Linked DNA regions of Homo sapiens. The protein of the gene in region 3 purifies or fractionates together with the protein of the main gene of each other region. This does not show direct contact. Each region holds a gene or a part of one and is shown on either strand. Other genes may lie near its edges.

Evidence for each region.
Region 1: the proteins of DHODH (region 3) and HERC4 purify together in Homo sapiens (affinity purification with western blotting; one study listed by BioGRID). This does not show direct contact.
Region 2: the proteins of DHODH (region 3) and PRR11 purify together in Homo sapiens (affinity purification with western blotting; one study listed by BioGRID). This does not show direct contact.

The regions. Positions count from the first base shown.
Region 1 is NC_000010.11:67,921,405-67,925,283, forward strand, and holds the end of HERC4 (probable E3 ubiquitin-protein ligase HERC4), read right to left. Parts: intron 3,784-3,879; coding exon 3,681-3,783; intron 1,736-3,680; coding exon 1,527-1,735; 3' UTR 501-1,526; downstream 1-500. UniProt on the Homo sapiens protein: Probable E3 ubiquitin-protein ligase involved in either protein trafficking or in the distribution of cellular structures. Required for spermatozoon maturation and fertility, and for the removal of the cytoplasmic droplet of the spermatozoon.
Region 2 is NC_000017.11:59,203,978-59,207,440, forward strand, and holds the end of PRR11 (proline-rich protein 11), read left to right. Parts: 3' UTR 1-2,732; downstream 2,733-3,463. UniProt on the Homo sapiens protein: Plays a critical role in cell cycle progression.
Region 3 is NC_000016.10:72,018,744-72,022,474, reverse strand, and holds part of DHODH (dihydroorotate dehydrogenase (quinone), mitochondrial), read right to left. Parts: intron 1,352-3,731; coding exon 1,164-1,351; intron 114-1,163; coding exon 1-113. UniProt on the Homo sapiens protein: Catalyzes the conversion of dihydroorotate to orotate with quinone as electron acceptor. Required for UMP biosynthesis via de novo pathway.

The DNA.
Region 1 (3,879 bases), on a different chromosome or scaffold from region 3:
GAACAGGGAAAATGGTATAATATCAGGTATGTGGAAACACTCTCATGGGGAAGAATGCTACTACTTTGAGACAAAGTACCTTAGGTGAGAATATTGTTTTAGTGCTTCTATCTATAGAAGAGTTCTATGGTTCGCCAATAGTTTTTTAAGTTAATCTACTGAAAAGTACAAGTCCACAATCCCTTATCCAACCCCTTGGGCTTATTTGCATTTTGGAATTGTGAATTCTGAAGAATTTTTTAAAGCACCCAATAGCGGTCATAGTCTTATTTAGTGAATACCATAAATAGCTTCAACAATTCAGATCAGGTTTTTCTGCAAAGTGAGAGATGACAATATTCTTTTCAGTTTTTTTAAATTTTAGAATTGCAGGTTAAGAGACTGTGGACCTCTATAAATTCATGTAGGAATAGAAACAAGTCATCCGAAATTTAAGAGACCTTCCCTGAACCATCCCTCTTTTTGAAAAATTTTGACTCTTATATGAGAACCACTGAAAGTTTAAATATTAAAACAATAAATCTTTATTAAACAGTTTTCACGGCATTTTAAAATAAATTTAAAAAATAAATATTTGCATTATAGCAGAAAGTCACATGTATTGCATCAACTCACTTTTACAATTTAATGGCATGAGACAACTAAGCATCAGCACCATAAAACTGTTAAGATTTGTTTCTTAAATTCAAGGAAATAGCTCTAAAGCACTGCAGCATCAATAATTTTGAAAGCTATAACCCAGTGATTGGTGCTCATAGTAGCCAATGTTTCTTTTTATTACTGGCAACTGTGGAGACAGAGTTCTTCCAGTACTAAATATTAATAAGTTCTCTGATCGACAATCCCCCATCTATCAGTGTGTCAGGATTCACAAAGAAAAGAACTGCAGGTTATGTAGTATATTCCCTATCTGTGATTTAGGTTTGCACAAAGACACTTATTCTAGCAAAAAAGAAAAGATAGTGTTTCCACCATGCTACCTTTTTTTTCTTTTTATAGAGTCTCAGAGTAAGATTTAAATCATAATTTTTAACCTTTAAAAGTCTGTTCAAGTTCAATTACAACCATAGAAACTGTACTGGTATCAGAACATAACTATTTTATTACAAAACTTAACATTATTTACAAAATGAAAAAATAATCAAATGACTATTGCAGGCCAAAGTTAAAGGTTTTTCACTCAATGATTGAAGAAAAATTAAGCAATATTTCCATGCACTCACACCAGATCATTTCTGAAATATGCAAACTCTTAAAATTCATGTTAGTAAAACTTTAATGTATTCATAATACTTGCTATGTTTATTAGAAGATGGTCAAAAAAAATCCATGGTTCTGTACAATAATATTAACAGTTTGTTCATTTTCCTTTAATATTTTTTGGCTTCCATGAACACTCGTAGATTGAACATTCTGCAAGTAAGAATTATAATAGTACCTCTGTCACCTTGCTGAATTCATCACCACAAGAAAAACACAAATAGTTTAATGCTTTTGCACTAAACTGAATAGTTATAACTCCAAAGTTATATTAAACTGAAGCCTTCATTGTGATCAATAGCTTGGATCAGTTTAGAGCGTAGAGTTTCTTTTTCTGTATATTTTGGAAGATCCAGAAGATTAAAACAAGTATGGGAAACTGGGAGATACTCCTCACCACCTCCTGTGGACTGGATGACTAGTTTCAGACTCTTCATACCAAGAATAGGAATGCGATCACTACCTGTCAAAAATACTGCCAAGAAAGAAATCATTCAGTCAACCACTTCAAAACAAAAAGATACAGTAGCAAGTAATATTTGGTACAGTCGCTACAGCAGAGCTTCACTTTAACATCTGCTCTAACGTGTTATCTTACTTCCTAATTTGTGGAAGACAAGTTTTTTGAGACACATTCTAATTGCTCATCCACACAATATTTTTTCTTTAAAAGTATAATCTTAATACTGGCACAAAGGAAGTGCTTAATAAATGTTTGATAAGTGAGTATTTTGCCATTGCCAAAACATTTTGAGAGCCCTTTTTTGGAAAAGCCATTCAGAACTAGTTGACAAACCAAATACAAAATGCAGTTTTGATTATGATTTCTTTTTCTATTTGCTTCGTTTCTGTTATTTTTTTTAAATCAGAAATTTATAATGGGCAGCCAAAATTCAAATCATTCTTTTTTTTTTGAGACGAGTCTTGCTCAGTTGCCCAGGCTGGAGTGCAGTGTGCGGTCACAGTCACAGCAGCCTCGACCTCCTGGGCTCAAGCAATCCTCTCTACCTCAGCTTCTGGAGTAGCTGGGAGCACAGTCACCAAGCCCAGGGCTAATTTTTATAGAGATGAGGTTTTGCCATGTTGCCCAGGCTCAAATCACTCTTAAAGAGTAATGATTTCTCATCCTTATGACACACAGAAGAATTTGACCAAGATTCTCGGAGGTTGCCAAATCATTCCTGGCAAAAGCAGGAGTATCAAAGGAAATGTCACCGATTTGGACACATAAATTCTGACAACTTTAAAAATAAGTCAAATTTCAATTAGAATACAGACTTTAACAGAAGAAAGATACACAGGCATCAGTTATAAATGAGGGAACTAAGGCCTGAAAAAGCTTTATTTTATATAGAAATTGCCAAAGTTTTAGTCTTGAAGCAAAAAGAAAAAGAAAAAGAAAATGAAGACCAAACAGAGAAAAGAGCAATACAGTTGGCCCTCCGTATCTGTGAGCTCTGTATCCATGGATTGAACCGACTGCAAATCGAAAATATTTTCAAAAAATGGATGCTTGTGACTGTACTGAATGTGTCAACTGTTTTTCTTGACATTGGTCCCTCAACAATACAGTATAACAACTATTTACATAGCATTTACATTGTATGAGGTATTAATAACATGTACATTCATGTGTCACTTAACGATGATGATATGTTCTGAGAAATGCATCATTAGGTGATTTCATTCTGTAAACATCATATATTTACACAACCTAGACAGTATATAGTCTACTACACACCTAGGCTACATGATATAGCCCTATTGCTCCTAGGCTACAAACCTGTACAGCATGTTACTGTACTGAATTCTGTAGGTAACTGTAACATAACAGTAGGTATTTGTGTATCTAAACATAGAAAAGGTACAGTAGCTGTATTATAATCTTACAGGACCACTATCGTATATATGGTCTGTCATTCACTGAAAAGTCATTATGTGGCACATGACTGTAATCTAGAGAAGATTTAAAGTATAAGGATATGTGTAGGTTATATGCAAATACTATGCCAATTTATACAAGAAACTTGAGCATCTACTGGATTTGGGTATCCTTGGCAGGGAGGTCTTGGAATCAATCCCCCATGTATGCCAAAGGATGACTATACTCCAGAGATCTTTTTAGAAATCTAAAAGGAATTCTACAATCCTAGTTTATTGTAACCACAGTTTATTGTAACTATAACATAGCTATAGTTTGCTTTCATTTCCAAGTTAGCTTCCATTTTACTTCATAGAATGAATCAATGCTATTTTGAAGGCAAACTGAATTTAGCCTTTGAAATAAGAAAATACATGTACTGAAGAGTGCAGATAGTTCTGTTTCAAAAAAATTACTTGAAGATTAAAACAGGGCTTTGGAATAATACTATAATTAGATTCCAGTCTCATAAAGTATACAACTAGTTAGAAATACTTACACAGAAACTGTTTCTTCTTTTCCAATGGTAATTCGTGAAATACTTCCCAAAAAATTTTTATCGTAGGATGTTCTGCCCAATATTCCCCTTTGTATTCTGTATTCTAAAAACAACATAATCTTTTATTAGTATTAAGGGACACACTGGCTAATATATTAGCACATAAAGCTAACATGGTCCAGTAGTTTGCAACTTGTGC
Region 2 (3,463 bases), on a different chromosome or scaffold from region 3:
AGTATTTATAACAATAATATTTTATGGGGCGCTTATAATGTTTATAATATTGTAAACCACTGTGTACTCTATTCATTTAATGCTAAATGACTTGACCATTCTTGTGGGATAAGAGATCATTAAAAAAATGCTAGGGCCGGGCACCATGGCTCACGCCTGTAATCCCAGGACTTTAGGAGGCCAAGGCAGGTGGATGACTTGAGCTCAGGAGTTTGAGACCAGCCTGGGCAACATGATGAAAACTCCGTCTCTACCAAAAATCAAAAAAATTAGCCAGGTGTGATGTTGTGTGCCTGTAGTCCCAGCTACTTGTGAGGCTGAGGTGGGAGGATGGTTTGGGCCCCGGAGGTAGAGGTTGCAGTGAGCTGAGATTGTGCCACTGTATTCCATCCTGGGCAACAGAGCCAGACCCTGCCTCAAAAAAAAAAAAAAAAAAAAAAAAGGCCTGGCACAGTGGCTCACGCCTGTAATCCCAGCACTTTGGGAGGCTGAGGCGGGCAAAACACTTGAGGTCAGACGTTTGAGACCAGCCTGGCCAACATGGTGAAACCCCGTCTCTACCAAAAATAAAAATAAAAATTATCCAGGCGTGGTGGCATGTGCCTATAGCCCCAGCTACTCAGGAAGCTAAAGCACGAGAATTATGTGCATCCTGGAGGTGAAGGTTGCAGTGAGCCAAGATCACACCACTCCACTCCAGTCTGGACAACAGAGTGAGACCCTGTGTCAAAAAAAAAAAAAAGAAAGAAAGAAAGAAAAAATGCTTTATGGCCCAGTGCAGTGGCTCACACCTATAATCCTAGCACTTTGGGAGGCTAAGGCAGGAGGATTGCTTGAGGCCAAGAGTTCAAAACAAGCCTGGGCAACATTGCAAGACCCCAACTCTACAAAAAACGAAAAATTAGCCGGGAGCGGTGATGTGTGCCTGTAGTCCCAGCTACTCAGGAGACTGAGGTGGGAGAATCACTTGAGCCTGGGAGGTTGAGGCTGCAGTGAGCTGTGTTTATACCACTGCACTCCAGCCTGCTGGGTAACAGAGCAAGACTCCATCTCAAAAAGAAAAGAAAAAATGCTTTGCTACATAATGAGGCCAGGCAAAAAAAAAAAAGTCCTGTGGAAATCATATAGACAAACATTTGCAAAGCTGCTACTGCCATTGTACCAGTGTTAAACTGTGTTCTACCTTGCATCTTTTACTGATTTTTATGACAGATTTTATATTGTAACCATTCGAGAACTCTGTAAGTGCTATGGCTTCCTTAAACTACGATTTATCATATGCTCCCGGTGTTTACTTTGAGACTGAATGGCAACCAGAGAATGTAAACAACCAAGGTGCATCTGGTTATGTTTTAAAATAAAGATTAATAAAAGTTTTGGTTTTTCTCTTTCTAACCTTCTTTTTAAACTAGAAATATAATACCTATAGAAAAGTAAATGTTGGCCGGGTGCGGTGGCTCATGCCTATAATCCCAGCACTTTGGGAGGCCGAGGCAGGCAGATCACCTGAGGTCAAGAGTTCGAGACCAGTCTGGCCAACATGGTGAAACCCTGTCTCTACTAAAAATACAAAAATTAGCCGGGCATAGTGGCAGACACCTGTAATCCCAGCTACTGGGAAGGCTGAGCCAGAATGGCTTGAACCTGGGAGGCAGAGGTTGCAGTGAGCCGAGATCGCCCCATTGCACTCCAGCTTGAGCAACAAGAGCGAAACTGTCTCAAAAAAAAAAAAAAAGTATATGTTAAGTATAGAAAAATATATAAATTAAAAAATTATAGGCTTGGGGGCCAGGCACAGTGGCTCACACCTGTAATCCCAGCACTTTGGGAGGCCGAGGTGGGTGTATCACTTGAGGTCAGGAGTTTGAGACCAGCCTGGCCAACATGGTGAAACCCCGTCTCTACCAAAAAAAATATATAAAAATTATCTGGGTGTGGTGGCATGTGCCTATAGTCTCAGCTTCTCAGAAGACTGAGGCGTGAGAATCACTTGAACGATGGAAGTGGAGGTTGCAGTGAGCTGAGATCACACTACTGCACTACAGTCTGGGCAACAGAGTGAGACCTTGTCTCAAAAAAAAAAGAAAGAAAAAGAAAAATGCTTTATGGCCCAGTGCAGTGGCTCACACCTATAATCCTAGCACTTTGGGAGGCTAAGGCAGGAGGTTCGCTTGAGGCCAAGAGTTCAAAACAAGCCTGGGCAACACTGCAAGACCCCAACTCTACAAAAAACGAAAAATTAGCCGGGAGCGGTGATGTGTGCCTGTAGTCCCAGCTACTCAGGAGACTGAGGTGGAAGAATCACTTGAGCCCGGGAGGTTGAGGCTGCAGTGAGCTGTGTTTATACCACTGCACTCCAGCCTGCTGGGTAACAGAGCAAGACTCCATCTCAAAAAGAAAAGAAAAAATGCTTTGCTACATAATGAGGCCAGGCAAAAAAAAAAAGTCCTGTGGAAATCATATAGACAAACATTTGCAAAGCTGCTACTGCCATTGTACCAGTGTTAAAATGTGTTCTACCTTGCATCTTTTACTGATTTTTATGACAGATTTTATATTGTAACCATTTGAGAACTCTGTAAGTGCTATGGCTTCCTTAAACTACGATTTATCATATGCTCCCAGTGTTTACTTTGAGACTGAATGGCAACCAGAGAATGTAAACAACCAAGGTGCATCTGGTTATGTTTTAAAATAAAGATTAATAAAAGTTTTGGTTTTTCTCTTTCTAACCTTCTTTTTAAACTAGAAATATAATACCTATAGAAAAGTAAATGTTGGCCGGGTGCGGTGGCTCATGCCTATAATCCCAGCACTTTGGGAGGCCGAGGCAGGCAGATCACCTGAGGTCAAGAGTTCGAGACCAGTCTGGCCAACATGGTGAAACCCTGTCTCTACTAAAAATACAAAAATTAGCCGGGCATAGTGGCAGACACCTGTAATCCCAGCTACTGGGAAGGCTGAGCCAGAATGGCTTGAACCTGGGAGGCAAAGGTTGCAGTGAGCCGAGATCGCCCCATTGTACTCCAGCTTGAGCAACAAGAGCGAAACTGTCTCAAAAAAAAAAAAAGTATATGTTAAGTATAGAAAAATATATAAATTAAAAAATTATAGGCTTGGGGGCCAGGCACAGTGGCTCACACCTGTAATCCCAGCACTTTGGGAGGCTGAGGTGGGAGGATCACTTGAGGCCAAGAGTTTGAAACCAGTATGGGCAACATTGCAAGACCCTGTCTCTACAAAAAACAAAAAATTAGCCGGGCATGGTGGCATGTGCCTGTAGTCCCAGCTACTCGGGAGACTGAGGTGGGAGAATCACTTGAGTCCAGGAGGTTGAGGCTCCAGCGAGCAGTGTTCATACCACCTGCACTCCAGCCTGCTGGGTGACAGAGCAAGATGCTGTCTCAAAAAAAAAAAAAAAAAAAAAAGAAAGAAAAAAGAAAAATGCTTTGCTATATAACGA
Region 3 (3,731 bases):
TCTTTGACCACACTGGCAATGTCCTCCTTATCCTGGCTGGTGAGGTCAGGAGCGATCTTCACCAGGACTGCCGGCCTGTGCACTCTCCGCAAGCCATCCCTCTCCTGCAGCACCTAGGGCGACACACGGCCAGAGCTGGGGACCCCGCAGACCACAGCCCTGCAGTGCAGCTGTGACCTACGCTGCAGGTCAGTGGGTTTCCACAATAGCGATCAAACTAAAGCAGAAACAATTTCTTTTCAGGAAAGCCAGCCCTCAGACGTGAGGAGTACAGTCGAGATGGATCCGATTCCATTCTTTTAGGCCAAGGGATCCCGTGGACATTGGCTAATAGCTCAAGGGTGTTTTAGACTTTTCTTTTCTTTTTTTTTTTTTTTTTTTGAGACAAGGTCGCACTCTGTCACCCACACTGGAGTGTAGTAGCATGATCACGGCTCACTGTAGCCTGCACCTCCCTGGGCTCAGGCGATCCTTCCACTTCAGCCTCCAGAGTATCAGGGACTACAGGTGTGCACCACCATGCCCAGCTAATTTCTGTATTTCTTGTAAGATGGGGTTTTGCCAAGTTGCCCAGGCTGGTCAGCTCCTGAGCTCAAGTGATCTGCCTGCCTCGGCCTCCAAGTAGCTGGGGCTATAGGCTTGAGCCACTGTGCCTGGCTAATTTTTAAATTTTTGTAGAGACAGGGTCTTGCTCTTTTGCCCAGGCTGGTCTCAAATTCCTGGGTTATAAGTGATCCACCTGCCTTGGCCTCCCATAGTGCTGGTATTACAGGCATGAGCCACGGTGTCCAACGTTTTTTAGACTTTTATTCCTAAAAGATAACCAGGAAATATTACCACATGTACTGGGTGATGAAGTCCTTCAGTTCACTCAGAGCTCTGGGCGCTAGGGTCAGAGTGACAAATGAGAGAGACGTGGTGTCTGCTCTTACAGACCCCGTGATTTATAGCAGCAGGGACAGATAATTTGTCACCGTCGCATATAATCAGTGTCATGAGAGGGGATCAGAGGGGACTCTGGGAAGGTATAGCCAGGGGTCCTACTGGTCTAGGTGCTAAGGACAGCTTCTGAGGGTGATGCTGAAGGTTCGCCCTGGAGAATGAAGGGGAGCAGGTGGGACAGGCTGGTGGGACAGGGCCTGGAGAGGGGTGCAGCTGCCCACCTTGGTCAGCAGGCGGCGCAGCTCGGCCTTTCCCTGAAGGCTCCGCAGCCCGGCAGTGTTGGGGCTGGACACATTCACCACCAGGTAGTCGGCCAGGGGGCCCAGTACGCGCACCCCTTCTGCGTAGTCCTCCGCGGCGTCCACTGAGGTCTTGTTCTTCCCCAAGTTGACCCCCAGAGGCAGTCCATCTGCAAACATCGCTGGTCAGGCCTGCACCCCGCACACCCTTTCCTGTGCCACCTTCTGAGGCTGCCCTTGACCAAACCACCTGTGGACAGCCGCGCAGGCCTTCCCTCCAAACCTGACCTGCCCGACACCGGCTGACAGGTGCTCAACTGCGGCCTGGGCCCGCCTGCTGACCAAAACCACTCACTGGCTTTGTCTAGCAAAGTCTGGGCAGCTACGAGGATGTTTTGCTGCATTTTGCCCTTTTTATTTTTAAAATTTTCATGGAAAATGGACAAATTACTGCAAATACTTGTGGGGCAAAAGATGGGCCTCATAAATTGAATAAAACTGAGAACAGAGAGAACTCAGTAGGCACATCAGGCCCGCAACTCTCACCTCAAGGAATGCTTGTTGGCCTTGGCTCGGTTGACTGGATGTACAGTTGCGAAGAAAAAACAAAATGAAAGAACATGTATAAAATACTGAAAAACAGGCCAGGTGCGGTGGCTCACGCCTATAATCCCAGCACTTTGGGTGGTCAAGGGCAGAGGATTGCTTGAGCCCAGGAATTCAAGACCAGTCTGGGCAACATGGTGAAACCCTATCTCTATAATTGAAAACTCAGCCGGGAGCAGTGGTGCACACCTGTAGTCCTAGCTGCTCGGGAGGCTGAAGTAGGATTGAGGCTCCAATGAACCGTGATCGCGCCACTGCACTCCAGCCTAAGGAGCAGAGCAAGACTCTGTCTCAAAAAAAAGAAAAAAAAAAAAAATATATATATATATACACATATATATATATATATATATATATACACATATACATATACACATATATATATACTGGAAAATGTTTTTTGTTTTTTTTTTTGAGATGGAGTCTCACTGTTGCCCAGGCTGGAATGTGGTGGCACAATCTTGGCTCACTGCAACCTCCGTCCCCTGAATTCAAGCAATTCTCCTGTCTCAGCCTCCTGAGTAGCTGGGATTACACGCATGTGCCACCACGCCCAGCTAATTTTTGTATTTTTAGTAGAGATGGGGTTTCACCATGTTGGCCAGGATGGTCTCCATCTCCAGACCTCATGATCTGCCCACCTCAGCCTCCCAAAGTGCTGGGATTACAGGCGTGAGCCACTGCAACCGGCCTAATTTTTGTATTTTTAGTAGAGAAGGGGTTTCACCATGTTGGCCAGGCTGGTCTCAAACCCCTGACCTCAAATGATCCGCTTGCCTTGGCCTTCCAGAGTGTTAGGATTACAGGCGTGAGCCACCATGCCCGGCCAAATGTTTTCAATTATCATGCCTAAAATGTAGAGGTGTAATTGTTTTCTAACTTATAATTTTAGTTCTCTGAGGAAAGGGACTCTCCCTCATATAATAACTGAGGGTACCCTGTATCTTAGGTGCTCCCTGGACAACCTGATTACTCCCCTAGCCTGGGCATCATTGTTAACACCTGCCCCTTTTTACTCTCAAGAGGGTCTCAGTTTACATGTAAGCAATTAGGTCAGCTTACTTAAAAATCCACAGGACTATCAATGGACTTGCATTTTGGACCTCCAGAAAAAATACATTTTCAGAAACACACTATGTGTAAAAGAAACGGGTTGTCTCTACTTGACTTCTTCTAAGTTTACTATCTTATCTGCACGGGGAGTGGTACATCAATGGTACAGGCTGTACTTTTGATCTGAGAGTTGGGGGAAGAATTAGAACACCAAGTAGCTCACAAAATGTGTTGTCAGGCCAGAGAGGATCAAACAACATCTATTGTACTGCTCACCACCTTCCCAACCCCAATCACACTCTCGCATCATCAGCAAATGAGATGAGTGTAGCTACTTTCCAGGGTGGGGACTGGAGGAGGGGATCAGAACCCAATTAGAAGCCGGGCGCAGCAGCTCACGCCTGTAATCCCAGCACTTTGGGAGGCTGAGGTGGGTGGATCAATTGAGGTCAGGAGTTCAAGACCAGCCTGGCCAACACGGTGAAACCCTGTCTCTACTAAAAATATAAAAATTAGTCAGGCATGGTGGTGGGCGCCTATAATCTCAGCTACTTGGGAGGCTGAGAAAGGAGAATCGCTTGAACCTGGGAGGTGGAGGCTACTGTGAGCTGAGATTGCACCACTGTTGCCTGGGCAATAGCGGGAGACTCTGTCTCAAAAGAAACAAAGAATCCAATTAGACAAAAGGTTTATCATAAGGTCTCCAAGCTTCCCAGTCTAGCACCCATCAAGCCAAGATCATCTGTAAGCTTGAATTCTTTTCCTCACAAGTAAACTGACTTGAAGGAGAATATCACTTTCATGTAGCTAACGGATTAGGAGTCATCTGCCCAAACTGACAAGATTTGGGAGTTAGACAGAAATTGCTGGATTACTCTGTCCCCAGAGGGC